Regions from separate parts of the Homo sapiens genome. Here all the other regions are linked to region 2. Evidence: fine-mapped expression QTL. A gene starts in region 2. Each other region holds a variant in brackets. All regions are shown on one strand. Distances are from middle to middle. Region 1 has its middle 29 kb from the start of DBI. Region 2 holds the start of DBI (diazepam binding inhibitor, acyl-CoA binding protein). Region 3 has its middle 41 kb from the start of STEAP3-AS1.

Evidence for each region. PIP is the estimated chance that this variant, and not a neighbour inherited with it, causes the effect.
Region 1: its variant is the best candidate, but not a certain one, in a credible set for the expression of DBI in whole blood (TOPMed, PIP 0.56).
Region 3: its variant is the best candidate, but not a certain one, in a credible set for the expression of DBI in whole blood (INTERVAL, PIP 0.65).

The regions. Positions count from the first base shown.
Region 1 is chr2:119,391,867-119,400,046 of GRCh38, reverse strand. No RefSeq gene overlaps it. Among named protein-coding and RNA genes, the nearest start is that of DBI, 29 kb to the right of the region's middle. The variant T/C (reference allele first, on the strand shown) is at 4,958.
Region 2 is chr2:119,362,912-119,371,091 of GRCh38, reverse strand. It overlaps DBI (diazepam binding inhibitor, acyl-CoA binding protein), which reads right to left and starts at 4,115. Exons shown (of 4, transcript NM_001079862.4): 1 at 4,032-4,115; 2 at 2,787-2,904; 3 at 290-352. The coding sequence starts at 4,040. C2orf76 (chromosome 2 open reading frame 76) reads left to right here and starts at 4,258. Exons shown (of 6, transcript NM_001322331.2): 1 at 4,258-4,302. RefSeq lists enhancers at 2,995-3,194, 3,725-4,054, 4,425-4,684 and a silencer at 4,155-4,304.
Region 3 is chr2:119,285,917-119,294,096 of GRCh38, reverse strand. It overlaps a transcript of C2orf76 not described here. Among named protein-coding and RNA genes, the nearest start is that of STEAP3-AS1, 41 kb to the right of the region's middle. RefSeq lists an enhancer at 1,546-2,047. The variant C/T (reference allele first, on the strand shown) is at 3,481.

The DNA.
Region 1 (8,180 bases), 29 kb before region 2:
GGTTGCAGTGAGCTGAGATCGCGCCACTGCACTCCAGCCTGGGTGACAGAGTGAGATTCTGTCTTAAAAAAAAAAAAGTTACTTTGTTCTAGTCTGGATCCCCCAGGGTCCATGCACTGTGCTGTGTTGATTTGTCTCTCAGAGGCTCTCCTCTCTTTACTTCCCCGTAGCATGTATTTTATTTCGACAAAACTGGATTGTTTGTTGTGCCACCCAGATTTTGCTGATTGTATCCCCATGGAGTAGCTTGACGCGTTCTTTCCCTGCCCCCTGTATTTCCTGAAAGCTGATAGATCTGGGGTTTTGATCAGATTGGGGTTAGATTATTTGGGAAGAAGACCCAGAGGTGCTGCAGTGGTTTCATCACATGGTTCCCAGGTGACAGGGAACTCTGGAGAGCAGGGAGACATCTTATTTATTTGTGTATCTCCAGAGCCTAATGCGGGACTGCAGTGTTGCAGTCTATAAACATGTGAGCCCAAAGACCAAGAATTTCAGCAGCGGCCTCTGTAAAGGTGAGAACCTGGCCTCCATTTGCTTTAGGCCCCCTGGACCCAGCAGTGGGTGTGGGCAACTTGTATCCCTTCTCCCGGTCAATGTGATGCTCCCTCTCTGTCCAGGGTCTCCTCCTTACCCTGGATCCACCTCAGACCTGGGCATGGTGGGTGAGTCTGCTCCAGGGCTGTTCTGTCCCAGGCTCTCCCTGTCCCCAGGATGGACAGAGATGGGGGCAGGAGGAAGTGGAGAGTCATCATTTCCTTTTTTCCATGAAAAGCCCAAGAGGAGGCAACGTGGAGTGTTAGGGTGAGGGCTCTGGGGCCAGATGCCTGCATTTGCAGCTCGGCCCTGCCCCTTACCAACTGTGCATCTTGCACAACTTACTTAACCTCTCTGTGTCTCAGCTTCTTACTCTATGAAGAAAGAATAAGTTAGTGCCTAGTCCATGTAATAGCATAGAATAGACTTCCTGGTGCACAGCTCCAAAATGCTGCTGTTGACTATTCTTCTTGTAATTAGCTATTTAACCTGCCTGGACATCCAGGCGAGCACTGGGGCGTCTCAGGTGGTGCAGTTGGGGAAGGAAGTGTCCCCTGGGGGGAGGCAGGAGGAGCCCTGAGGAAGGCAGCTTCGCCCCGGTGCAGCTTCCCTTGCTCTCTGATGCCTGAGCATGAACCACGGATGAGTCATCTCTCAGGTAGAGCATTGCATTGTTCCCCATTTCTCCTTTTGGAAAGCAAATATTCCCAGACGGCATTAAATCCTAAGCATTTCTGGGGCTGGGACTAAAAGGAAGGGAAAAATGCTGAAAATGGAGAATTGGAAGCGGGTGTTTGTAAAGGGCAGTTCTGCTCCCATTCTTGGGGAGCAGCTCACAGGTACGAGGCTCTGAGCATGTGTAGCTCCTGAAATGAATGGGACTGTCCCAGGATGTCCCTGAGAAGGACAGGCCTTCCAGGGCTATTCTTAAAGGGAGTGAGTGGGTGTGTGCGTGTGTGTGTATGTGTGTGGGAGAAGAGAGAGAGAGAGATGAAAATCTTCAGTTTGGGATGGGGCATGTGTATCAGAAAAACACATTCAAATTAAAAGAACTCATATTTGGGCCTGGCATAGTGGCTCACACCTGTAATCCCAGCACTTTGGGAGGCCAAGGTGGGTGGATCCTTTGAGGTCAGGGGTTCGAGACCAGCCTGATCAACATGGTGAAATACTGTCCATACTAAACTACAAAAATTAGCCGGGTGTGGTAGCAGGCTCCTGTAATTCCAGCTACTCTGGAGGCTGAGGCGGGAGAATACAGGAGAATTGCTTGAACCCAGGAAGTGGAGGTTGCAGTGAGCTGAGATCACGTCACTGCTTCCAGTCTAGGCAAAGGAGCAAGACTCTGTCTCAAAAAAAAAAAAAAAAAAAAAAAGAACTCATATTTGGAAAAGGAAAAACTCACGGTGTTGCAACACAGGCAGCAAAGGGAAAGCGTTGATTGGTGAAGCTGTGAAGGGCTTTCACAAATGAGCACCCTGCTTCTGCGGGGACCAAGGATGACCCTGTCTCCAGGAGGCTGTGAAAATGCTGGGTAGGTAGAGGTATCCGCTCATCCTCTGGAGACAAAAGCTCAAAGTGCTTCGCAGGTGGAGCCACCCCACTCCCCCAACTCCCCTTGCCTGGTCGGGAGACTGGGAGTGGTCTATCTTAGCCAGATGTGCCCCGTCTTTGTTTTCCATCACTGGCTTAGCCAGATGTGCCCCGTCTTTGTTTTCCATCACTGGCCCAGCCTCACCGTGCTCTGCTTCCAGTCCACTGAGGGTGGGTATGGAGTGATGAGAAGTGGGTGACTTGCTGAGTCAAAGTATCTCAGTCTTCTCCAATTTAAAAGAGACTTTTTTCAAAGACTTAGCCCCTTCAGAATTAAGACTTCCCATCAGTTCTTCTCCTCGCTGAAGGGGTCTCCTCTCTCACCCTTCCTTCTCAAGGGGATAGGGGCAGAAGGATGGACCCTGGCCTGGAACTGTCACAGGGCCCCCACTGGATCCCTTACCGAGGTGTGAGTGCCTTAGGGAACTCAGGGCCGTGTCAGGCCTTCTCCCCAAGTCCCTGGGCTGGCCTGCCCTTGCCTGGGCGCTTGCTGGCCTGACCTTGCCTGGGTGCTTGCTGGCCTGGGCTGGCCTGCCCTTGCCTGGGCGCTTGCTGGGGCTGCCATCCTTGAGGCCTGGATGTCGCTCTTTTTCAAGCTCTGGCCCTAAAGTCCAGCCTGTTCCTCCTCCTCAGGCTCTCTTCCTCAGAGGGAGCCAGCCCCGGGTTACCTTTGGGACCCCTGGGCATCTCTGGATGCTGGAGCTCTCTGGGCCTGGCCCTCAGTGCTGGGGCCCCATTCTCCTAGGCAGGGGGCCTCAGCATTCCTAAGACCCAGCAGAGTATCCAGAAGCAGGGAAGGAGCCACCTGTCGGATCCAACATCCCACCCCCACACCACCTGAGTATTTTGCTCTTGTAGGACTTAGCCTCCTTCCTCCGTACTCAGCCCAAGAAGATGCGAAAGACACTGTGGGCTCACCTCCAGCCCTTCCCTCCCTCCCTGCCAGCTCTGCCCCCTCACACCTCCTTGGAGGCCCTCCTCTGTCTCATGGAGCGCAACAGCCTGGTCATTCTGTATCTTCTTGATACTGTAGTTTATATTAATGGTCTAGTCTCATCCCTCGAAGCTTTACTTTTGATAAGTAATGGGAAGTGTTTGGAGGTCAGAAAACCTTGTCTGTCTTCATAAAGTTGAGTTTTAAACATTCTTGTCTTTCTAGGATTTAATAAAAAAAATCAGTTTGAAAGGGCATTAATGACATGTTCAAAAGACATCTTTTTTCTATGTGTGTAGCTTCAAAAGTGACTCAGTAGGCCGGGCATGGTGGCTCACGCTTGTAATCCCAAAGCTTTGGGAGGCCGAGGTAGAAGGATTGCTTGAGGACAGGAGTTTGAGATCAGCCTGGACATGGTGAGACTCAGTCTCTAGAAAAAATTTAAAAATTAGCCAGGTAAGGTGGCACATACCCATTGTCCTAACTACTTGAGAGGCTGAGGTGGGAGGATAGCTTGAGCCCAAGGGTTCGAGGCTTCAGTGAGCTCTAAATGCACCATCGCACTCCAGTCCAGGCAACAGAATAAGACCTTGTCTTTAAAAAAAAAAAAAAGACTCAGCAGTAAGCAGTAGTATTTTGCTTAATTCTAAGTGCCAAGGTTTTGTACTCTAATATAACTCTACACCAAAGGAATCAGGATTCTAGTAGAAGGTAACTGATGGCCTGTCTGTGTCCTGGGAGTTAAGAAAGATCAGGATGGTCCTAGAATATCCTGCTGTTGGCCCCAAACAATGGAAGGTTTCAAAAATTTGGCACCAAAAGAACTGCTTGGCCAAACTGTAACAATTGGCAACAATTTATCATAATCTGAGCATCAAAATGGAATACTTGTATTGTTAAGAATAAGTTTAGTCTAAAAAGACATGCGAATATAATGATACCTGAAAAAGAAATGTTTATAGAAAGTGTAAAAAGATAGTATTTAAATAAATTGCAGTAGTGAGGAGAGTGTGGATATGTCTGTTTCTAAGTCTATGTAAGACGCATTCTCCATGTGTAAGTGGTAAAGAATAAACATGGAAGCGTGAGCAAGTGAGAGATGACCAGGAAAAGCAAGGAGGACCTATCAGTGTTGTCAGTCACACAAAGCCCCAGAGTAGAACGATGCCCAAGAGTGCTGCACAATGATGGACCAGGTGAGTCTCCCAGAGAGACCAGCTGTCCAGACTGCATCCGTGACTTCTGGGGGATGAGATCTCTAGTTGTCCTAATTAATCAAAATGCATCCTAATCTTGGGTGATGGGTGCACCAAAATCTCACAAATCATCACTAAAGAACTTAGTCATGTAACCAAATACACTACCTGTCCCCCAATAATCTATGAAAAAAAAAGCATCCTAATAAAACAAGCATATGTTTCCTCCTGTCCCTCTTTCTCCTCTTCCTTTTCCTCCTTCTCTTTCTTCTTCTACTTAATCTCTGCTCCTTGTTTTTCAGGATATGTTTGCTGTATCGCTTGAAGGTATCAATATATGCGTTACAAGCTCTAAAAAGGTAAAAGGACAAGTGTAAGGATGGTGATTATAAGAAGCCTCCTGGCTGGGCGCGGTGTAATCCCAGCACTTTAGGAGGCTGAAGGGGGCGGATCACGAGGTCAAGAGATTGAGACCATCCTGGCTAACATGGTGAAACCCAGTCTCTACTAAAACTACAAAAATCAGCCAGGTGTGGTGGCCTGCGCCTGTAATCCCAGCTACACGGGAGGCTGAGGCAGGAGAATTGCTTGAACCCAGGAGGCGGAGGTTGCAGTGAGCCGTGATCGTGCCACTGCACTCCAGCCTGGCAACAGAGCGAGACTCCATCTTAAAAAAAAAAAAAAGAAGCCTCCTGGC[T/C]GGGTGCAGTGGCTCACGCCTGTAATCCCAGCACTTTGGGAGGCTAAGGCGGGTGGATCACTTGAGGTCAGGAGTTCAAGGCCAGCCTGGCCAACATGGTGAAACCCTGTCTCTACTAAAAATACAAAAATTAGCTGGGCATAGTGGTGCACCTGTAATCCCAGCTACTTGGGAGGCTGAGGCACGAGAATTGCTTGAACCCGGAGGCAAAGTTTGCAGTGAACCGAGATAGCACCACTTTACTCCAGTCTGGGAGACAGAGCAAGACTCTGTCTCAAAAAAAAAAAAAAAAAAAAAAGTAGAAAAAAAGAAAGAGGACGCTCATACTGGTGGTATTTTAGAACAAGTTTAAATGTAATCTTTTGTCTGGTATATTTGTGGATATTTTGTTTCAGTCTAAATCTTTTTCTTAAAAAGCCAGGAGGTAAATGTTTTTGGCTTTACAGGCCATGTGGTTACTGTTGCAACCACTCAACTCTGCTGTTGTACAGGGAAAGCAGCCATACACTATATGGAAATGATGGTGTGGCTATGTGCTAATAAAACTTTATTTGTAAAATCAGGCAGTGAGCCTCAGTTTGCTGACTCCTGGAGTAGAATATTTGAAGTGTGAGGTAATCTGTCATGATAAAACCATAATTTTAGTTTAAGTCACATAGGAAATGTATTGAATAACATCTGTAATCAGTGTCCAAATGTTAAAGAAAAATCATTCTCTAAATGTGGTTTATTAAAACTGCATTCTGTTTAATCAAGGCAGTATTAATTACCACACAAAAGCCCTTCTGATATGAAAATAGTCTACTGATGCTAATGATAGAGCCGAATCTAAATTCTCAAATCTTTGAACTGGTAAAATAATTCCCATTAAGGTGGTGTGGCAGAGACTAGCCGACTACTAAGCAAACCATTTCCTCTTTTCTCTGGGCACACACAGCTGGACTATATTTCCCAGCCTTTCTTACAATTTGGGTGCCTTGTGCCTGAATTCTAGCCAATGGAATATCAACAAAAGTGATGCATGTCAATTCAAGACCTAGCCTATCAAAACCTCCATTGTTGGCTGGGTGCGGTGGCTCACACCTATAATCCCAGCACTTTGGGAGGCCAAGGCAGGAGGATCACCTGAGGTCAGGAGTTCAAGACCAGCCTGGCCAACATAGTGAAACCCCATTTCTACTAAAAATACAAAATTAGCTGGGTGTGGTGGCACATGCCTGTAGTCCCAGCTACTTGGGAGGCTGAGGCAGGACAATCGCATGAAGCTGGGAAGCAGAGGTTGCGGTGGACTGAGATCACACCACTGTACTCCAGCCAGGGTGACAGAGCGAGACTCTGCTCAAAAAAACAAAAACAAAAACCTCCATTGTCCTTCCCAGTCCTCATGCTGAGCTCAGAGGCCCCCAAGGCTGTAAAGGAAGGCAGAGGCAGAACCTGGAAGGAGCCATCCACTCAGCAAGAACTCTATTTTGTGCTTCCCATGACTGAGCAATAAAATTATATTTTTATATACATATATATACATACACACATATATATGTTTCTTTCCTATGAATACATGCCTATGATAAAGTTTAATTTATAAATTAGGCACAGTAAGAGATTAATAATAACTAATAATAAAATAGAGCAAATATAACAATATAGTATAATAGAAGTTATGTGAATTGTCTCTTTTTCAAATATCTTATTATATGTAATATTTTTGGACTGTGGTTGGCTGCAGGAGACTGAAAACTTGGAAAGTGAAACTGTGGATAAGGGGGGCTCTTGTATCTTAAGTGTGGCAATGATTGCTGGCTGTGGGGATTTACTAATAGAATTTGTTTTGGAATACCTTGAATGGGGTACAGCTGAGGAAGACAAGAAGGAGATGAAATTTTGACACCCATCTGTTCATCCATTCAATAAGTGTGTTTATTGAGGATTTATGTGGCTAACCTCTGAGACAGGGAAGATACAGCCGCTGCCTTCAAGGACCTTACCCAGGAGGAAGCAGGCAGTTGTGCTAACAAATAATTGTAACAAAGCATGTAGCTGGGGGCAGTGGCTCATGCCTGTAATTCCAGCACTTTGGGAGGCTGAAGCGGGTGGATCACTTGAGGTCAGGAGTTCGAGATCAGCCTGGCCGACATGGGGAAACCATGTCTCTACCAAAAACACAAAAATTAGCCAGGCTTGGTGGTGCACACCTGTAATCCCAGTTACTCAGGAGGCCAAGGTGGAAGAATCGCTTGAACCCAGGAGGTGGAGGTTGCAGTGAGCCTAGATTGCACCACTGCATTCCAGCCTGGGTGACACAGTGTGACTCCTTCTCAAAATAATAAATAAATAAATAAAAATAAAGCATCTAGAGTTCTGTGATAGAAATGTGTCCCTGTGGGTGGCTTGGATAGAGGAGGGTGTTATCAGTTGCAAGAGAGGAGGGAACAGCTTTTTCAAGGCCATACAAGGGTGCTATAACCTGGGGCCAGTTAGGCAGGGGAAAGTTGGGGTGGGGAGGCATAGCAGGAGGCGACTCAGAGAAGCAGTTCCCTCTCAGATCCCACCAGGCAGGTGAGAAGAGGCAGGCGGTGGGGTCCAGGATTGGGCTCTGCATAAAGAGATCAGGGTTTGGCATAAATCTATACCTGCAGTGTCAATTCCAGCCACCAAAAGCAGAGGCTGCACAGTCAGCCAGGCAATAGGACTTGAGTAAGCTTGTGGGGACCCCCAAAATGACGGTTGGTTCAGTCATAGGAGCTCCAGTGCTTCCTATGCAGGTTCATTCTTTGAATGCTCATACTGAATGGCTACCGTGTGCCAGGTGCAGTCCCTATTCCACTGTCCATCGGGCAGTGGGGGCAACAGACACACAGACAGATTATTTAGATTCCACGCCCTTTGTTAGTCCACTGAAAAACCTTGTTCCCTCCACATAATAAAACTCACTCCATGTATTGAGTAGGTACTGGATGCCAGGCACTTTATACATTTGAACACATTTGATTTCATTCAATCATCATAATAATCCCTTTTAGTGATGAGTAAATGGAGTTCCGGAGAGGTTAGCGGTAAGTAGCAGAGCCAGGATTTGAAACCAGGCCTGCTGGAACTGAAGTAAATCCCATGCTTTATGTACTCTGTCCCAAAGCTCCCTCTCTAGACACTTCACACTTTGCTCATCAGGCCCCAAGGCCTTCCTTCCTCCAGACCTGGGCCCATTCCACCAGACCATTCTGCC
Region 2 (8,180 bases):
AAGCCTACGCCAACTACATCATTTCCCAAACTATTTTTCAGTGGCCTGGTTCCCAGCCCCTCCTCTCTAGATGATGCTCCTGCTCAGAGATGGTGCTTTTAGAAAAGGCATAAATGGTGTTAGGAGAAAAAGTAGGTGGCCCGGTTTTTTCCCATTCTGGCACAGGTCAGGCTGGTTTCCCACACGTGCCCCATTGACTTTGTTTTCTCTCCTCTTCCCTTACACTTCATAATGAAGACTCTTTCACTACTGGGTTTCACAAATGAGAGAAATTGATTAGAACAATTACCTTTCAGCTCATTCCAGGCATCCCACTTGGCCTTGCCCGTGAAGTCCAACATCCCGGGCCGTTCTTAAACAAGGGAAGAAAAGGCATTAGATCTGGTTCAAATTCTAATGGAGAACTTGATCAACCTTCTTGCCATAAATGCCATCTTCTATTACACCTGTTCCTTCTAGGCTCTGTCATGGGGTTAAATAGGTCTAGTAGAGTGGGTTCTGCCCTAAGAAAACCAATGTATGCCAATCCAAACTTAAAATCTAGAGCAAATAGGAAGAACAGTATTCTTATTACAAGATAGCCTTTGTCTTACAAGTTAAATGACTCCAAAATTTCTCTTTTAAAAAAATTATACTTTAATTACAATTAAAAAAAAAATCCATTCATATGTCTTAAAATTCAAAAGCTACAGAGGAAAATACTATAAAGTTTCTCTCTCACCCCTGCTGTTAGCTACCCAATTTCTCTCCCTAATCATTAATGATATCAGGTGTCCTTTCCTATGAACTGTTTATATCCTAGCCCCATTTTTCTACCGAATTGTTAGTCTATTTCTTGCTGATCTGTGGGAGATTTCACCGAGGGTAAGGTTTCTTTAAGTTATATGATGACTTTATGCTTATAGACCTGTTGTCATCTGCAGTTGGGAAACACACTCACCATCTCCCTGTTGTCCTATTTCACTACGATGCCCAGCCCCAAAGCCACAGGGAACAATCAGAGTCCGTAGCCTGGAGCACTGTGCCTGAGAAAATGTCCCTGAGCGCTTTCAGGGAAGTGTTCCCAGGGACAGCTGAAACAAACTGCCCTTGTGGTCATCATCAGGATCCTAGAATAGCACTCCTCGACAGCTCTCTCCAAGCGGTGGAAATGGAAATGTACATGTATATTTGCAATGTCCAATTCAGGAGCCACTTGCCACACCAAGTACCTGAAATGACTACTGGGCATCTGAAATGTGGTTCCTGTGAATGAAGACTAAACTTGATTTTATTTAACTATTTTCAGTTAAAATTTTTTTTTTTAGAGACAGAGTCTCGTTCTGTTGCCCAGGCTGGAGTGCAGTGGTGCGACCTCGGCTCACCACAACCTCTACCTCCCAGGTTCAAGCGATTCTCCTGCCTCAGCCTCCCAAGTAGCTGGGACTACAGGCATATGCCACCATGCCCAGCTAATTTTTGTATTTTTAGTAGAGATGGGGTTTCACTACGTTAGCCAGGTTGGTCTCAAACTCCTGACCTCATGATTCGCTTGCTTCGGCCTCCCAAAGTGCTGGGATTACAGGCATGAGCCATAGCGCCCAGCCTCAGTTAAAATTTATATAGTCATATGTGGCTACTGGCTATTATACTAAACTATCGTGTTTGGACTATCATGTTTTATAATCGTGTAATAGGGCTGTATAGTACAGCCCTAGAGAGAGCCGATGACACCTCTTTGATCAGTAAGTGATAGATTCCTATGCCAGTCTATCTAGACTCATGTGAAAATCGGTAACTCTAGTACGGGCACAGGCCAGTCTCTGTGAAAATACTGTTTGTCAGAAAAGCATCTTGGCACCTCTGGCCTCCCCCACTTCACCTTTCCTTCCCCTCCCTGGAAGGACAGAGTTTACGAACTCACTGTAAAACTCACCTTCGCCATAAGACCTTCTTCAACTAAGTGCTCCATGTGAACCCCAGGGTTTGATATGGTACTGCCTGTGATCTGTCATTCTGGGTACTATTTCCTGCTTCCAGCTGGTTGGCAGCCAGCCCACCTGCTCCATCTTCCACCCCAGCTACTGCGGAAATAGGGACCATGCTCGCCTTCTTCCTCAGCAGGGGCAGGGGAGACCTCCCTTCTGTGCTGCCATGATAACCCTGAGTCCTTGCACAGAATGCACTGCGCTGTTGCCTCAGTATCCACCCATGTTTCAGGGACTTAGGGACAGAATGAAACCTGCCCAAGGCAGGAAAGATGTTATTACAGAACATGACAGTCCAAAGCACAGCCTCAAAATCTGCACCAAGATTTCTGGGCAGGGAAAAAGTTATCATCAGGAAGGCACAGACTTGTTAGCGAAATGCTCTGACCTAGCCCAAGAAACCAGGTGCTTCTCTGCTCCTGACATCAGGCTTGGCCAGGCTGTCAAGTGCTCCAAAAAGTGCTCCAACTTTGATCCTGCCCATCTAGGGCAGAAGCTGAACGGCTCAACAATGATACTACTGAGCTGAGAGCCTTCAGCAAGTCTTTTCCAAGCTGCAGCCTTTGCTTCTTCCCTAGTAGAGAGTAGCTGCTGGTGATAACCAGTAAAGACCTTCTAAAACCAGGATTTGAATTCTGTTACTACTGGAGACACTGAGAATCCGGAACATGGTCTTTTCCACCTCAGGAACCATCACCATACCCCACCTGAAGAGTAGGGCCTCAGGCAGTTTGAGAGTGAAGTTCCCAGGGACTTCCAGTCTGAGCTGCTGAGCCTGCTTTGATGAGCAGATGCCCTTCCAACCCCCGCTCTGCATACCTGTATTTATGTCGCCCACAGTTGCTTGTTTGTAGTGGCCATAGATGAACAGCATCTCCTCATCCGATGGCTTGGTCTTAAGGTGCCTAACCTCCTCTGCAGCTTTCTCAAACTCAGCCTAAATGGAAGGGAGAGGAGAGGATTGAGGGCCTCCTCTGGGTGGGAGAGGGTAAGAATCCTACTGTGGCCTGATGACAGCCCAGTTACGGGGATGGAGAGGTGGGAAAGGTGGCACCCTTCGGGCAATGCAGCCCCTGAAGTGTGTCTGCCCCTCCCTGCCCCAACAGGGCAGCTAGAAAGATTCAGCAACACAAGAAGGGGAAGCCCCTCCAGTTCACTCATTCAATCGAAAACCATATATCCAGAGCTCTCACAAACGCAGGCATCAGGTCTGGAAATACAGCAGTGAAGAGGGCAGGCCAAGCCTTCGCCCCCAGTGGGGGTCCCCTCTGCGGGAGAAGCAGCGCGGCCAACTGCCTGGCCACCACCGGGCCAGGCACTAGGGAGTGGCCGGGGCTGCAGCGAAGCCCTGGCCTGAGGACAGACGGGGCACAGTATGCTGGAAACAGCTGAAAGGGGACAGGGCATGAGTGCCGCGGTGTCAGCGCCGGAGCCCGTTGGTCCCCTCCCTCCCCCTGGGGCCCGCGCGTTCAACACCGACCTCTGTCCCAGTGCCCGGATTGGCAGAGGCAGGCGGGAGGAGCCAGAGGTCGCCCCACATAGCTCGGTCTCAGACAAGGGTCTACACTGGAGAGAAGGGAGGGGCCCCTGGGTCACCTCTCCCCGGGCCGCGATTCTCCTCGTCCCGCACTCTGAGCAGCCGGCCCCGTACTTCCCCTGACCTCCAAGCTCTCGGCCACGGACTCCTCGCTTCCCCACTCCGCCGCGACGTCCTGCCCTGTGCTTCGGGATGGGGACTGAGTCTCCTCGCTCCTCCAATCCGTGCAACCCCTTCCCCCATCTCTCCATCAAGCACCCTCGACTCCCACCCCTCTCCCGCTACACAGCGAAGTCCACCCCATGGGCAACTTTCCGGCAGTTGCGGGGTGGGCAGCAGATTTAGAAATCCCCAAACGGAAAATCCCGCTCACAAGGCTCTGTCCAACGAATCAGGGCTAGGCATGGGCCCATGAGCAAGTGAGGGGCACGGAAGGAAAGAGCCCGAGAGCTTCTGGCAGCCGGCTGAGCCCCCAACGGGCCTCCCGCCCGCTGCACCTTCGCAGCCTGGCTGTGCACGCGCTGTACCTGAGACATCCTGGCCGACTTGCAAGAACTCCAGGGAGACAGCGGAGGAGGCGAGGACCAGGAAGCGATCGCCCAGATTGCACTGGCAAGCGCCTTTAGAGGCGCGGTCCACTCGCCCCAACCCTGCTCGGGCGAGCACCGGAAAGCCAATCAGAAGCCAGCTATGCGCTAGGGGCGTGCCCAGCCCCCGCCGCGGCGCTAGCCCCGCCCGAGCCCACGTGGGACCGCTTGCGCAAACGCCGGGAGTAGCCGAAGGGGACGCCGGGAACAGGTGGGGACAACGGAAGTAGGGTGCTTAGTTTTGCTGCCGGGAGTTGGTCGAGAGTTGGGTTCAGTCCTGGCCCGTTGTGGGGACGGCACGCGGGGGAAGGGGAGGGGACGGAGACCGAAGAACGGAGGTCCTTATGTTTCTTTTCTTTCCTTAAATCTTGCCCGGCCTGAAGAGGCCGGAAGTTGCATCTCTGGACAAGTAAACTCTGAGACCTGGGAATGGCGGGCGGGACCCGCTCCTCCCTTGGGGTCTAGAGGAGACCCCCGGAGATGGTCCCTGATGAGCAGCGTGATGGTGGAAAGCTGGACTGGTCTCCCGAAAGGCGAAGCCGAGGCTTCTTCCTCTGAACTTTTGGCACGTTCTTTGACTTGCTTGTGGCCGTAGTGTCAGGCCTGTATTGCACATTTATGTCTGTGGTGCATTTCTCCATCTGGTGCGTTAAAGGCAGGGACGGTGTCTTATTTGTCTTGATTTAACAAACTTGGACGGGACGAAGTGCTCAGCAAATATTTGTTAAATGAATGGCTGTTTATTGAACTCCTGTTGGGTAACTTGCACTGTTCTAGACCTTGGCAGACAGCAGTGAACAAAGCGGGTGAATCCCTGCAATCTTGGAACTTACAAGTAGGGACAGTAGTTTATACAATAAGTTAAATATAGAGTACTTTAGGGGCTTAGAGAGTTGGAAGTTTATAGTTTTAAATGGAGGAGGGGGAGTATTGAGGGAAGGTGACATTTGAGAAAGTTCCTCAAGGAGGGGAGGGAAGATTCCAAGCAGAGAACAAGTGTAAAGGCGTGGGCAAGGAACCAGGGGAAGAGTAGAAAGATGAGGCTGGAGAGTTTTGGCGGTGGCAGACTGGCTAGGTGATGCAGAAGTTGGCCATCACAGGGACTTTGACTGTCATGCTGAGTGAGATGGGAAATCGTAAAAGGGTTTGAAAAGAGGATGAGGAGACGGAGGGGAACGTCTTTGCGAGATTGTTACACAGCCTAATCTCCATGGGAACTGAAAGGAGCAGCACAGGTGTCTGGAAGTGTTTTAGGATCGATGTTTAAGAAGCTAAAGGAAGACTTCTCTGGCAGTGGTTGCAAAGGAGCTGGGTGAAGAGAGGGAAATGATGGAAAATTCTCTGGAGATCATTAAAAAAGCAAAGTCATTCCTCTCTAATTCATAATTTGTGGCAAGAGGGCTGGACTACAAATCTCTGCCCTGCCTACACCTTCCCCCTCCCCAGGGAAGGTAGACGCTTTCAGACTTAACTTGCTAACTTAATGTAGGTCACGTTTTATGGAATGTTTGGGAAGAAATGAAGATGCAATAGGGAACAAATCTAGGGTTTTCAGTCTGAGCATAATTTTGTTTGAGAAAGGAAAACCAAACAAATTAACAAAAATCTTGGAGTTAAATATGGGGAAAGTACACTGAAGTGTAAGAAATGCAGGTTTCTTCGAAAATCACAATTCAGAGCTGCTTTTTCCATTTGAGGCCTGGATTTGTTTTTGCTCTACTTGGTGCTTACAGCTTCCTTGATGGAAACTCAGATTATTGCTTGTGTGGGCCAGATTTGCAGTCAAATACATCTCCTAGTCAGCAGGTTTTAAGTTAGGGTATTGTTGAGATTAGGTACTTTGAGAATGCAGTTATCACTTCTCAAAGATCAGTTGCTTTTAGTTTTTTAGTTTTTGTTTTTTAATTATTTTCGCGTGTGATGTGGTCTCACTCTTTTACCTAGGCTGTAGTTCAGTGGCACAATCTCAGCTCTCTGCAGCCTTGAACTCCAGGCCTCAAGCGATCCTCCCACCTTAGCCTCCCGAGTAGCTGGAAATGTGGGCACAACCACCATGCCTGGCTAATTTTTTTATTTTTATTTTTATTTTTTGTAGAGATGGGGTCTTGCTATGTTGTTGGTCTTGATCTCCTGGGCTCAAGGGATTCTCCCACTTTGGCCTCCTAACGTGGTGGGAGTACAGGTGTGAGCCACTGCGCCTGGCCTTGATTGAATATTGCTTTTCATAATTCTGAGAATGCAAGATCCTCAGCTCTGTTTATGTCCTTGTTAGCCACCGTAACATGTTGTAATTATTTTATTTACAATTATTTTAATTTTAATTTACTTTTCTACTGTCTAACCCTCTGCCTCTGCCTCCCACCAAACACACATAAGCCAGGAGGAGATGGGGTCATTGTGTATCAGTCACTGCTGAATCTCCAAGTGTCTGGCACTTCTTAGGCACTCAACAAATAGTTGTTGAATGAATAAAGTGTTTTTCTCTCTATGAAGATTTATTCTGTCTGATTAACTGAACTTGGAAACCATCTAAATTTGTTAGAACTGAATGTAAAACTATGGGGTTGAGTAAAGTAGATGAACTCTGGTGCAAGGACCATGTAATCTCTTTGTACCACTCCCAGCTTTGGAAGCAGAGCACCTGGAGATGAGAAACCTGACCAGCCAACTTGTCAGCCAAATTGACCCTGCCAATCAATAGAGAGGCCATTGTCATTGTTGTAGTTTGCCTTCACATCTGGGAATACCACTTTTTATTTATTATTTATTTATATTTTTTTCATAGAAACCACTCTTGTCTGCCACAGGCTTCACTCGGTGGGTCTCAGAATAAAGCCAGATGGGCAAGATCTCTCTCTCTTTCTCTCTTCTCTCTCCTCTCTCCTCTCCCTCTCTCTCTGCCCTACCTCTCTCTCCCTCCCCCTTTCTCCTATCTCTGTCTGTCTGTCTGTCTGTCTGTCTCTCTCTCTCTCTCTATTTTTTTGAGACAGGGTCTCACTCCATTACCCAGGCTGGAGTGCAGTGGCACAATCATGGCTCACTGCAGCCTTGACTTCCTGGGCTCAGATGATTCTCCCACCTCAGCCTCCCGAGTAGCTGGGACTACAGGTGTGTGCCACCATGCCTGGCTAATTTTTTGTAGAGATGGGTTTTTGCCATGTTGCCTGGGTTGGTCTTGAACTCCTGAGCTCAAGTGATCCCTCTGCCTCGACCTCCCAGGATGCTGGGATTACAGGCCTAAGCCACTGTGCCTCGCCCTGGCAAGATATATTAATAAGTGAAAGCATTTCTTGCTCATTAGGTGGGAATAGTAGTTTCATATTAAGTTTCTTAGTATAAATGAAACCTCTAATTTCTGAAAGTAACCTAATCACCAGAAAATGAACTACGATTTCAGGAGAGCTTCCTAGTTGCTCTAGTAACTAGAGTTACTATAAGGCGAGGGTTAGGGTATCCACAAATGATGGATTACATTCATTCTGTATTTTCTTTCCGGTTACTTGGAATGTGACTCCTGTGGCAGGGCTTCAGCAGAGCTGGAGGAGACTAGTTTTTTTTTTTTGCCTTTTTTTTTTTTGAGACAGAGTCTTGCTCTGTCGCCCAGGCTGGAGTGTAGTGGTGCGATCTCGGCTCACTGCAAGCTCCGCCTCCCGGGTTCACGCCATTCTCCTGCCTCAGCCTCCCGAGTAGCTGGGACTATGGGTGCCCGCCACCACGCCCGGCTAATTTTTTGTATTTTGGGTAGAGACGGGGTTTCACTGTGTTAGCCAGGTTGGTCTCGATCTCCTGACCTCGTGATCCGCCCGTCTCGGCCTCCCAAAGTGCTGAGATTACAGGCGTGAGCCATGTCGCCTGGCCCAGGAGACTAGTTTTAAAGGGAAGAAGGGACTTTGGAAATGCTTCTGGATAGGATTGGGGAGGTATGGGTGGAGTTTTTTTGTGAAGGCTGAGGGAGGTGAGAGTTGGTGGGGGTGGGGTAAGAATGAAGCCTGGCTTTCCTCATAACTGGTGAGAGGAGGCCTGGCAGCTGGAGGTGTTAGCAAGTCCTGTGCCATTCCTACCCTCTCCTTCCTTTGGGTGTTCGTCTTC
Region 3 (8,180 bases), 77 kb after region 2:
CCTCTGACTTCTCTAATTATATCTTCTCCCTAGATGACCTCATGCGTGCTCCCAGCTTTAAATAACAACTAAATGCTGCAGACTCCGGATTTCAGTCCACAGCCCAGCTGCCCGCTGGAGTCCCTGCTGGGTGCTCCCCATCCCTGGTGAGGTGGCTGATAGGTATCCTCTGATAGATGCCTCAGATGATAACACACTCCAGCTGAGCCTCTGAGCTTTCTCCCTGAGGGTGGACCATGCTCAGTCTTCTCCACTGAAGGACATGACCTCCAGTCCTCCATTTGTTTAGGCCAGAAACCTTGGATATATATCTCTTTTTTCTTTTACCCCCACAGCCAGGCCATCAGCCAGTTCTGTCTGCTCCACGGGCGTTCAGAGTATATCCAGGGCCCAGGCGCCTCTCACCTTTTTCACTGCTACCACTGGGTCCAAGGCACCACCATTCTTACCTGGACTATTGCAGTCACCTTCCTTCCAACTGGGTTTCACTTCTCTCTCACTTCTACCCCACTACAATTCTTCCTGTTCTCATTCCTGCCCCGCTGCAATTCTTCACCCAGCCATCACAGTGATTCTTCTAGAACATGAGTCAGATCCTGTCATGCCTCAGTTCAAAACCCTTACTCAGAGAAAGAACCTTGGCCTTGGTCCTCTTCCTGGTGCACACCAAACATATGCACGCCCCAGGGCCAGCTGGTAAACATACACATGCCCCAGGGCCTTTGCACTTGCTCTTCCCTCTGTTTGCAGTGACTTTTCTACATTTTTTGCATGGTTTTCTCCCTTTCTGTCAGCTGTCTGCTCAAATGCCATAAAAGAGGCCTTCTCTGCTTATCCTAGATAAAATAGCAAATGCTTGCCCTTGCAAAACTCATTTGTCTATCTCTGTTTTACTTTTTTAAAAATCCTTTTCTGTTCCGTCTTCTGCTATTAGAATGTCTCCAATGTATAGAACAGTGGCTGGCACTTCATAGGCCAGCAGGGATGTTTCTGGGATGAGAGAATGACTTTAAAATTATATTTGTTTTTTGTTCGTTTGTTTGTTTTGTTTTGTTTTGTTTTGAGACAGAGTCTCATTGTGTCGCCCAGGCTGGAGTTCAGTGGCACAATCTCGGCTCACTGTAAGCTCTGCCTCCTGAGTTCAAGCGATTCTCCTGCCTCAGCCTCCTGAGTAGCTGGGACTACAGGCGCATGCCACCACACCCAGCTAATTTTTGTATTTTTAGTAGAGGCAGAGTTTCACTATGTTGGCCAGGCTGGTCTCAAACTCCTGACTTCAGGTGATCCGCCTGCCTTAGCCTCCCAAAGTGCTGGGATGACAGGCATGAGCCACCGCACCTGGCCTAAGATTGTATTTGAATGTTAAAGCGAAACTTTACAGCTTGTTGAAGCTCATCCCATAGCAATGTATTAACAGATCTGTGTAGACTGAATACACTCTCTAGGAGTTTCTTTAGTTGAAATTAGTCATCCAGATGTGTAAAGTGGTATAGACTGAGCTCTGGAATAATTGGTCAGCAGTCCTGTGTGCATATGTGTTTCAAATGGAGTTGAGGAAATGAGATGAAAACCTGTGTTGAAAGTTAGTTTGTTTTTGTCGGTCTGACTCGGGTCACTGCTGCACTTGCATTTTCATGCGGCTGACAGTTCTTTTCTGCCGCTAGGGCTCTGCGTATGCCCGGAGGCGGTCCTGAGCCTCCTGTGAGGGCTTTTTTACCAGCTGGAAAAAAAACAAAACAAAACTCAAACGCTGTGGTGGTTAGTCACAATAGGCAAGATAAGTGTCCTAGATTGTCATTTGTTTCTGTTTGAACTGTTCCCTGGAAAACTAAGTAGAAAACTGAACAGTGGATTGTACAACTGTACAAATTAAGGCAGAATTTTTTTCCCCACTTGCCTTAAAGCAAAGTTGCTTGTTTTAAAAGTGACCTAGAAGTGAACTTGTGGTGACATTTAAAATTATACAAATTGGAAAAGGCAAATGGTGCACTTTTGCATATATTGGAATCATTTGTCTTTCTGTGTTTGCTTTAGGCAAGCATGAGTGGGAAGAGAGAGCTCCGCTTGGACATAGGCAGCCCGGGGTTGGAAGAACACAGGCATTGTTGCTAGCTTGGAGGTGTGACCTTGGGTGAGCTGCTTGGCCTCTCCAGGTCTCAGTTTCTGGCTCTGTTAAGTGGGGATGATAACACTGACCTTCCAGAATTTCTCTGTGACTTTGTTAAGGTGACCTAGCTCGGTGCCTGACTAAACATATTGTTTTGGGGAATAATTTCTGTTACACTGCTATTTTACAAAGAAATACTACTAATCCCATCGCGCAGAGAGAACATTTAGACACTGAATAGGAGGTTGTCCCCCATGAGTGCTAGGCAGTGGAGCCAGGCCTCTTCCTACAAGGCAGGGGTGTCCGGCTGCTGCCCGTTCTCCCCCTCCACCTGTCAGCTCCAACCACACCACCCAGCAGTGTTCTTGGACCCAGGGAAGGACTCGTTTTTTATTTTCCAAGAACCTTCTCTTCCCATTTCATTTCCCGAGGTGCCTTGCCCTTGGATTCAGCCAGCCCTGAGCACATTACCTGTCACATGTTTCCCTGACATATCCCCTTTCTTCTGGTTGCAATTTTCCCCAATTAGGAGTAATGGGCTCATTAACAACAGCCGGCACTTTAAATTTCCTTTCTATAAGGATAAAGCCGTCCCTTTCACTATTCTCTGGCTGTAACTTGCTTCAGGTGGGATGGGGTGGAGTGAGGTGGTAGAATGAATGGATACACAGCTTGTTCAAGGAAATAGAATCTCTGGGAAGAAAAATCTTGCAAAGGCAGGTTTTGTAGTTAGAATATTCTAGATACCTGCCAGGCACCAGCCGATTAATGCCCAGCCGTTCATCTTTACATCTTGCCGAGCAGCTTCTCCTCGGTATGACACCTTTCCTGCCATATTAGCAGAGCCTCGTTACGCGGAGAAGTCCAGGCTGCAGGTCAGGTGGAGTGGCTCTGCACTTGTCCGCCTTTGCCTACCCTTCAGCCACCAGGTGGCAGCAGAGTCTGTCTGGGCCTGGGAACTGATGAGGCCGAGCCGGTGTCAGTCATTTGTTAAGGACTGTGTTCAATAGGTTTGTCCCCCTGTAAGTCAGCCTTGGCGTCTGATAGCTGAAAGTCAAAGCCATCAGCTTGTAGATGGGGTGGCATGTTGTACTAGTGCTCAACAGCGACCATGCAATTGCTACTGCCTAAAATTTTATTTTTATTTTTATTATTTTTTTGAGGCGGAGTCTCACTCTGTCGCCCAGGCTGGAGTGCAGTGGCACGATCTCGGCTCACCGCAACCTCCGCCTCCCAGGTTCAAGCGAGTCTCCTGTCTCAGCCTCCTGAGTAGCTGGGATTACAAGCGTGCAATGCCACGCCAGGCTAATTTTTGTATTTTTAGTAGAGACAGGGTTTTGCCATGTTGGCCGGGTTGGTCTCGAACTCCTTAC[C/T]TCAGGTGATCCACCCGCCTTCGCCTCCCAAAGTGCTGGCATTACAGGCATGAGCCACCACTCCCAGCCTAAAATTTTATTTTAAAAGTCAATGCTTAATTATTTCAAAGCCAATACCTAACTTTAGTCAGTTTTACCTCTATAGTCTTATTTCCTTCTTTTTCTTTTATACCACTCTATTTAATGATGGGCCATTTCTAAAAAGAAGACTAATAATGTGTCAACGCTTTGGAAAACGTCCCTGTATATTTGTTGAGGATTCCTTAAAGCTGAAGGTTGAAAGGTCGTGAGCCGGTTTCTATGGCTTCTGTGTTAAATGCTTCCTAGTACAACAATTGATAGGCAGCCTCCTCCATTTGGCCCAGGTGAGGTGCTTAAAAAATTCCTTCTCAAACCAATTGCAGGGAGACGTTCTTCTGCTTGGTGGAGGGGCTTGGAAGCTGTCCTTTAGCTTGGGCATATGTGAGCCTGTAAGCAGTGCCCAGAGCTTTGGGGTCAAATGGTGACTCCCATGCAGGGGCAGGGACGCAGGAATTACTTTGCAGAGGGAATGTCCCTCTTCCCTTCTGAAGACTGAATGTTCTCACACATAATTAGGCAATGCCAGTAACTCTTTGGATAGTGTACAAAACCCTATGTTTGTTTCTAGGTTATTTTAAAAATTAAGAAATCTCACTTTAAGGCAGCAGACAGAATAAAAACCAGTCTGCCCTGGTGCAGAGCGGTGCCTCTGTGGTCTCTCTTCCTGGCTTAGCTGGGTGTGGCTGACAGCAGAGAACTACTACCGGCAGAGGGCTGAGTTGGGGCTACGAGCGGGGCCTGAGACAAGGTCTAAAGTGGCAGGGTCTCTTTATAGCTCTGTGGACCCCCTTGGTGTCTAATTCCAGTCCCCAGTCCTGTCAAAGCCACCCTGCACTTTTTTTTTTTTTCTTGAGACGGAGTCTCACTCTGTCGCCAGGCTGGAGTGCAGTGGTACGATCTCGGCTCACTGCAACCTCCGCCTCCTGGGTTCAATCGATTCTCCTGCCTCAGCCTCCCAAGTAGCTGGGACTATAGGCGCGTGCCACCACGCCCAGCTAATTTTTGTATTTTTAGTAGAGATGAGGTTTCACCGTGTTGGCCAGGATGGTCTCGATCACTTGACCTCCTGATCTGCCCACGTCAGCCTCCCAAAGTGCTAGGATTACAGGCGTGAGCCACTGCGCCCGGCCACCCTGCGCTTTAATGCAGACACCACAGCTGGTAGACGCTTCCAGACTAAGATGTCAAGGAGACTTGGTTAAGTGCAAGATGGAACACAGAAGCTAAACCACAGGAGAGTAGAATCTTAAGAAGGCTGATTTGAGGCAGAGTACAGTATGTCCCTACCTTCTGGCTGCATGAGACCTCCTGACATAGCGCACATTCTGCAGCCTTAAGGCCCCCGTGTTTGCTAGAAATGCGTTGGGACCTGCCTGCAAAGGTCCTGGTAACTGGCCTTCCTCGGGCTCCAAGTCAAAGGGACAGAGTAGTTTCTAGAGCCAGCAATTCTCTCTGTATTCTCTCTTCCTCTCTTTCCAACATGTTGGCTTTTTCAGTGTCTTGGCCCAGGGTTGCTTATACACTTGAAAGTAGAGCAGCTTGAAGACAGATTATTTCGGTTTTCCCTGAAAGCCTTCGAGAGTCAGGGAAATTTTGCTAGAAGGCTTGAGGTGTAAGAGAGGGAGAGGAGGCTGGGGGCTGGAGTGACTCACCAAGGCTGAGGGGATGGAGCTTGTGGGTTCTACCATTGCCACGTGTCTTGTTCTGGGGAGGTGACTTGTCCTCAGAGGGGAATAGCTGACCCTAAGCAGGTGAGTGCCTCCTCTCCAGTCTCTGGCCTGAGCAAGGCCTGCGGCTTCCAGGTTCTGAGGGTGAGTGTCTAGCTTCTGGTGGATGGTGCTTTCTGCCAGTGTCGGGGTTGGAGCTTTCTCTGCTCTTACAATTCCACCCTTCCATCCACTTCCCGCCTTCAAAACTTGGATCAACTCTCTTGTCCTCGATGTCCTCTCTCTGGGTCTCTTTGTCTTCATGAGTTTATGTTTGTATTATCCCCTTACTCCCATCTTAATGGGGTTTTCAGAGGAGATGATGTAAATGAATAATCAGCCTCTCATGTTTAACTTTGGAAATCTGCTTGCTTGCTCTCTCCCTTACTTTTTTAAAATTGAAGTATACTGTAATCCCAGCACTTTGGGAGGCTGAGGTGGGTGGATCACGAGGTCAGGAGATAGAGACCACGGTGAAACCCCGTCTCTACTAAAAATACAAAAAATTAGCTGGGCGCAGTGGCAGGCGCCTGTAGTCCGAGCTACTCGGGAGGCTGAGGCAGGAGAATGGCGGGAACCCGGAAGGCGGAGCTTGCAGTGAGCCGAGATGGCGTCACTGCACTCCAGCCTGGGCGACAGAGTGAGACTCTGTCTCAAAAAAAAAAAAAAAATTGAAGTATAATTTACAGATGGTGAAATGCAAAGATCTTAGATATGCAGTTCTTTGGGTTTTGACAAGTGCACGACCCACATCTAAGTCAAGATGCAGAACATGCCCACCACCCCCAAAACCTCCTTTGTGCCATCACAGTCCCCTCTCTGCCCCTCTGTCATCACCCACCACTGCCCTCTGTCATCAGCCACTACTGCTGTGATTTCTGTCACCATAGGTAAATTTGGGCCTTCATTTTTGAATATTTGAGGGTAATGTATATGGTCCAAATCACTCTCCCAACACAACCAACTAACTGAAGACCAACTCTAATATTATAAGAAATTGGAATTTAAGTAAGAACAATGCCATTTTATTTTAAACACACACAGTTGCGTCCAAATCTAACCTCTTCCTTCAGGAGTAAGGAGAGAAGATGTGTTGTCTTCTAGAATTTCCTTCATAACCAGAACTTCATGTCAGTTAAAAATTTCTGCCATGAAAAAAAACTCAAGGAATCAAGAAAGAGCCTCAATGTCTTCGAACAAATATCACGTCTCCTCAGATCTTCCATGTCATATTCCCCTTTGTTGTTCTCAACAAAAACAGAGACTTCCCATCTTAAAAATGTATATGTGATGTCTTATTAAAAAAAAAAACATGTTATTAGCCCTGCTTTCAAATAACCCTCTAAAGTTGTATACTTGAGGGCAGAGGCCCTTGTGGTGGGGTTGTGGGAGAGGGTCTCGGGCGGTGTGTATGTATGTACATGGGAACCTGTGATGGTGAGCTGGTGGGGACTGAGGTGTGATAGTTGCCTGGTTTCTGGCTGGTAGGCACTTCCATTATGTGGATATTGCATATGTGACAAAAGCCATATTTCAAAATTTCAAGTATTTTTCCAGCAAGGTCCAGCAAGCTCTGCAGGACAAGCCATCAGAAGCGAGACTGAGCCAGGCATAAAACAGCCAGCATTTATCAAGTGCTTGCCCTGTCAGGCCTCACTAAAGCACTTTGCAGATATTTACTCACTACTGCTCACAACCCCTGTGAGGTAGGTACTAGTTATCTGCATCTTACAGATGGGGAAGGGGCACTTGGAGGTAAAGTGACCTGCCCGAGGTTTCCCAGCTCCTAAGTGATGGAGCCTGCCAGAACCAACCATCAGGAGGGACTTCGCAGGTGAAAGAAGGTTCTTCTGCTCACTGGGGGTACTAAGAAGAAATTCCTAGTCCATAGCTGGAGCAAGTGAAACCCTTCTTTGCCTTTCACTACTTGCTGATACCTCCTCAACAGAAGTCAGCTCAGAATTGCTGGAATGAACATCTCATGAGAACGGCCTCCCCTTCCCTTCCCACCGCCATTGCCCTGCTTTGGGCCTCATCATTTCTCATCCTGACCGCAGAGACACTCTCCCGTCTGGTGTCCTTCCCTGCAGACTCTCATCCACCGAGTCCAGCCTTCATGCCGCTGCCAGAGTGATCTTTTAAAAATGCAAGTCTGACTGCTGTATCCCTCCCTGTTCAGAACCATCGGATGGGTCCTTGTTTCCTTCCGAATCACGAGCACACTCTGGCATGGTGTAGTGGGGCTTCTTTGGTTTGATCTCTGGCTACATCTCCAGCTTCTCCTCCAGCTATGGAATTTGGCACCTCCTCCTGTCTCCCCCAGCTCTCCCCTGTCCCCTTACCCTGTTCTCTCTGGGCACACCATGCTGCCACTTTCTCAGACTTCCCACTCTGGTCTCTGAATGTTCCACCAGACTAGCATTCATCCTGGGAGGCACAACCAAGGACCATCTTGTCCTTAAGGTCCTTTCCATCCCACCTTCCCAGCACTTCACAGCCAGGAGACTGGTCCCTGCTCTCCTTTTCATCCTGCTGTGTGCTGGCCAGTCCTCTGGAGCACTGATCACACACTGTGGCCTTGCTTTTTTTTTTTTTTTTTTTTTTTGAGATGGAGTCCTGCTCTGTCACCAGGCTGGAGTGCGGCGGCATGATCTTGGCTCACTGCAGCCTCTGCCTCCTGGGTTCAAGCAATTCTCCTGTCTTAGCCTCCCAAGTAGCTGGGACTACAGGTGCCCACCACTATGCCCAGCTAATTTTTGTATTTTTAGTAGAGATGGGGTTTCACCATGTTGGCCAGGATGGTCTCGATCTCTTGACCTCGTGATCCGCCCGCCTTGGCCTCCCAAAGTGCTGGGATTACAGGCGTGAGCCACTGTGCCTGGCCGGCCTTGCTTTTTTATATACTGACCTTCC